Regions from separate parts of the Homo sapiens genome. Here region 2 is linked to region 1. Evidence: fine-mapped expression QTL. Tissue or cell type: whole blood. Region 1 holds a variant in brackets; the other region holds the start of a gene. All regions are shown on one strand. Distances are between the middles of the regions.

The links. PIP is the estimated chance that this variant, and not a neighbour inherited with it, causes the effect.
Region 2: it holds the start of SLAMF6, and the variant in region 1 is fine-mapped to the expression of SLAMF6 in whole blood (TOPMed, PIP 0.90).

The regions. Positions count from the first base shown.
Region 1 is chr1:160,485,445-160,488,133 of GRCh38, forward strand. SLAMF6 (SLAM family member 6) reads right to left here. Exons shown (of 8, transcript NM_001184714.2): 7 at 1,660-1,731; 8 at 1-1,310. The coding sequence ends at 1,263. Among named protein-coding and RNA genes, the nearest start is that of SLAMF6, 36 kb to the right of the region's middle. The variant G/C (reference allele first, on the strand shown) is at 1,478.
Region 2 is chr1:160,521,908-160,524,596 of GRCh38, forward strand. SLAMF6 (SLAM family member 6) reads right to left here and starts at 1,348. Exons shown (of 8, transcript NM_001184714.2): 1 at 1,237-1,348. The coding sequence starts at 1,285. RefSeq lists an enhancer at 1,133-1,182.

The DNA.
Region 1 (2,689 bases):
AGGCAGAGGAAGGGCCTGCAGGAAGATGTAAATAATTAACATAAAGAACTTTTCCTTTAATAGAGGAGCTGAAAGAAGATCAGGGAGGCTACATAGAGAGTGTCAGAAGGGTAATGCTAGCTGAGGCTGGAGGTGGGCCAGACCATCCAGGGCCATGGAAACTGGATTTCTTTCTGAGTGCATTGGGAAACCTGCAGGGTTTTAAGCAGGAAACTGAAGGATCCAATTTATATTAAAAACATTACTCTGGCCATCTTGTGGAGAGTGGGTTGGAGAGGGACAAGAACAAAAGTGAGGACAACTGTTCTGATCTTAAGGTAGGATTCAGGTTAGAGGTGGTGATGGTTGGATACAGGATGGTGGTCAAGGAGTTGGAGGAGAAGTGGAAGGTCCAAGAAATATTTCTGAGGTAGAGTCCAAAGGGCCTGGTGACAAAGACACTGGAGTCAGGGATGACTTAGATTCTTGGCTCAAACAATGGAGCTGATGTAATACCATCCTCTTCCTTTTTCAGTCTGGGAGACTAAGGCTCCAAAAGGTTAGGCAGTATGTCCCAGGAGATGTGTCTAATAAACATTGTACAAGTTGAGCATCCCAAATCCAAAAATCCAATATCCAAAATGCTCCAAAATCTGAGATTTTGAGCACTGCATCGACATCAATGAAACTCAAGGGAAATGCTTATTGGAGCATTTTGAATTTTGGATTTTTGGATTTGGATACTCAACCGCTAAATATAATGCAAATATTCCAAAATCTGAAAAAAAATTGAAATCTGAAACATTTCTAATCCCAAGCATTTCAGACAAGGGATGCTCAACTTGTATCAGGATGGGCCCATCCAACTCCAGAGACTACACATGTAACCAACACACTGCATTATTTCTCAATAAGTCAATCCTGCTGCTTTCTAAAAGGAGAGAAGTGGTTGTCTTCTGGATCATAAACTCTCTGTCAACCATAATTCCATTTGCTTAGTTATCAAAGAGAGAGTCAATGTGCTGGTGTGTTATCTTTAGCATGTTTTGGCCTGAAGTGGATTGGAAAATATTATTTGAACCACATGCTGGAAATGATGTTATCCTTAGGTGTTTGACTCAGGTAGGCAGGTTTAAGTCCGAAGGACTGGAGGTGATCATCCTATCCTAGATATTCAAATTCTGTTGCCAGGAACAACAGGAACCAAGCTTCCTGTTCTTTGTTCTGTCTCATGGGATCAGAAGACGTGTCATTCCCGAATTCCTCTGAGGCCTTTCAGCAACTTACACGACATTGTCAAGGGCAGTTGCCCTGGAAAAAGTGGGTTTACTCTGTGGGAAAAAGAGGAAGATGAGGTAGGTTAATTGGAACTGGAACCTCAGCCCACCCCTCATAACTACAGAGAGAGGACTGGAGACTACAGAGAGGCAGATAATAGAGATATTGATAGCATAGGGCAGGATTAAATTTAAAAACATGTAATTGAAAACTCAGTTAT[G/C]CATGGTGATCCTAATACAAAATAACTTCTTGATTATGTTTTGGTGATGTCCTGAGACTTTCCGCATGCTGCTGCTGTTTGTGCATCTGTAAAATGACCCTTTTATTTTTACTTTATTTGAAAAATCATAGGTCTGTGGAGAGAGGTAAGAATATAAAAACATGGAGCAATCGTGGGCTTACCTCTTTGGAATGATTAATTGTGGAGTAAATTGTGATAGTATCATTTTCTCTAGGTGTCCAGATTTCTGTTTCCTGTAAAAAGAATCATACCAATTTGGCTTACACAGAGACAAAGAGATTAATGCATAGATATATTCTTAGGAAAGACTGTGTGACAAAAAAGAGAATATGTCAAAGTTCTTCCAGAGGAAGGCTGGGGAATGTTCAGTGGAAGACCAAGCACGACTAGCTATCAAACTTGTGAGGATTTAGTGGCATTTCCTGAGCCCCAAACAGAACAGCAACACTGCAGCAAACCAATGGGCTCAAGAGCCAGAGAAAGGCAGCCTTGCTGTATGAAGGGAAGGAAGTATTCTTGTCCTTTGTCCAGCTCTACTTTCCTTCCTCCATTTTTAAGAAAAAACTTATATACCAGATAGTTTATTATATGTTTTGTCTCAAATTTTTACTAGCTATGACTGAAACTACCCATTTTGCCTGCTCCATCTTTTGCTATAATTCTAACTGCCTTGTCATCATGTCATTGGGGTCTTCTCAAGCATGGGGAATTGGTAGAATAGGAACACTTGGCCTTAAGAATGGCTCTGCCTGGAATGCACATTACAGAAATAATAGCAGAAGTCCCTACGGCCCTCAAAGAACCTACTCAAAGATTTTGACACTTTAAATTAATGAAGAAGTATTTAGAGAATTATCAAGATCTCTACTGGGCACAGTGGCTCATGCCTGTAAACCCAACACTTTGGGAGGACGAGGCAGGCGGATCACTTGAGCGCAGAAGTTTGAGACCAGCCTGGGCAACATGGTGAAACCCCGTCTCTACAAAAAGTAGAAAAATTATCCTGATGTGATGGTGCTCGCCTGTAGTCGCAGCTACTTGGGAGGCCAAGGTAAAAGGATCACCTGAGCATGAGGAGGTTGAGGCTGCAGTGAGCTGTGATTGTGCTACTGCACTCAGCCCTTGGTGACAGAGTGACACTCTGTCTCAAAAAAAAAAAAAAACCAAAAAACAAAAAACAAACCAACAAAA
Region 2 (2,689 bases), 36 kb after region 1:
ACTTGTTTATCTTTTTTTACAGTTTGTCTCCTGCTAAAATGTTAACTCCATGAGGGCAGGAATTTTTGCTTGCTTTGTTCATGATGTATTCATGCAAACTAGAAGAGTGCCAAGCATTCAGTAGGTGCTCAATGAATATTTATTCCTTTCTCATTCCAATTACCAATTACTCTACTTAACTCCATATTGATGGGATCTCTTGCTTCAGTCTCTTCTTTCTCTTATGCTGCTGCCACACTTGTTGAACTGTTATTTTTTCTCATAACTATTACAAGAGCTTGTCGCATGCTGGCTAATGAAATTTGGGCAAATTATTTAAATTAAGTTCACCTCAGTTCTTCATTTTAAAATGGAGATATTAATAGTATAAATTCATAGAATTCTCATGAGACTCATAACGTGTGTACAGCACCTGGCACAATACTTGAAATACAATAAGTGCTCAGTGAATGCTTCCTACTTTTATCTGCTACCCTGGGCTAGCTCTGGACTAGATTTCCATTGGTCTCCTGGACTATCTCTGCCTGAATGCTACACTTTGTCTCCCGTGGACCACTTGTAGTTCCCCAAATGTGATATGAATCTTCATCTTCTCCATATAATGGACAGCAGGAAACAAGAAGCCAGCTGGATCAGTTCATTCTTTTCTCACTGCCATATATAATGCATTGCTGGACTAGCTAGCCCTAATTTGCACTAAAGGAGGGGAGAGATGGAAACCTTTTTTTTTGCAATGAGCAAAAGGTGAGAGGGTTATTTTTGGTGTGTTTGGTTGGGCCCAGAAAATTTGGCTCAACTGAATAATAGGTTTTTAATAATTTAGATGAGGATAGTGAGGTTCAGGAAGGATAAGTAACCTCCCTGAGGTTCACAGTACGATAGTAGATACATTGGTATGAGGGCCCATTTTCTTGGTCTTGGTACTCTTTATAACACAAGATGCTGGTCATAAACCACAAACAGTCTTGTCTTCAAAAGCTTATTTCCTCTGCCCCAGCAAATAACTTTCTTACATGCAGACACAATTGAAATTGTTCACCGACAACCATCTCAGGCTTATCGCATCCAAAGTTGAGAGGAGGTAGTAGTATATCAGGTAACACTGCCAGCGTCCCCTTTCCCGCCCCAATCCCTTGGCAGAGAGCCAGACAACTGTATACAGACGATTTAGGTTGAGCAAGCTGCACAAAACCAGGGAGTCACTCAGTGACTACACCGATCTGGATTGACATTTACCTGGGCCAAAGCAGAAGACAAACAGGAGCGATTGGAACAGCCACAACATGCTTTCCGCGGTGAAGACTGGTGCTTGAGACCTTGAGGCAGTCAATGTTTTTGCCCTTCTGTCATAAACTGAAAATACTTCTGAGACTTCCCCTTCCTCTTAGAGGCGTGGTGACAACTTCTTCCCCTGCACTAAAAATCCTAATTTGTAACTGTGTTAATTTTTTGTTTACTTTTTTCTGAGCTAAGTGCACAAATTTTTTTTTTTTTTGGAAAAGAAGATAAAGTCCTTTATTGCATCTTTCATAAACTTATATGTAAAAGTCTGTAAGGAATTTCCTAAAATCTACTAGAACAAATAAATGAGTTCAGCAAGGTGAAAAGATACAAAATCAAAATATAAAATTCAATTGCAATTGTATATACTAGCTATGAGTAATCCAAAAATAAAATTCAAAAAACAATTCCACTCTAATTACATTAGAAAAAAATATTTAAGTATAAAGCTAAGAAAAAGCCAAAAGAAAACTGATTTTTTAAAATTATACTTTAAGTTCTAGGGTACATGTGCACAATGTGCAGGTTTGTTACATATGTATACATATGCCATGTTGGTGTGCTGCACCTATTAACTTGTCATCTACATTAGATATTTCTCCTAATGCTATCCCTCCCCTTGCCCCCCACCCCGTGACATACCCCAGTGTATGATGTTCCCCTACCTGTGTCCATGTGTTCTCATTGTTCAGTTCCCACCTATGAGTGAGAACATGCGTTGTTTGGCTTTCTGTTCTTGTGTTAGTTTGCTGAGAATGATGGTTTCCAGCTTCATCCATGTCCCTGCAAAGGACATGAACTCATCCTTTTTTATGGCTGCATGGTATTCCATGGTATATATATGCCACATTTTCTTTATCCAGTGTATCATTGATGGGCATTTGGGTTGGTTCCAAGTCTTTGCTATTGTGAACAGTGCTGCAATAAACATAAGTGTGCATGTGTCTTTATAGCAGCATGATTTATAATCCTTTGGGTATATAACCAGTAATGGGATTGCTGGGTCAAATGGTATTTCTAGTTCTAGATCCTTGAGGAATCGCCACACTGTATTCCACAATGGTTGAACTAGTTTACACTCCCACCAACAGTGTGAAAACATTCCCATTTCTCTACATCCTCTCCAGCATCTGTTGTTTCCTGATTTTTTAATGATTGCCATTCTAACTGGCATGAGATGGTATCTCATTGTAGTTTTGATTTGCATTTCTCTAATGACCAGTGATGATGAGCTTTTTTCATATGTTTCTTGGCCGCATAAATGTCTTCTTTTGAGAAGTGTCTTCATATCCTTTGCCCACTTTTTGTTGGGGTTTTTTTTTTTTTCTTGTAAATTTGTTTGAGTTCTTTGTAGATTCTGGATATTAGCCTTTTGTCAAATGGATAGACTGCAAAAATTTTCTCCCAT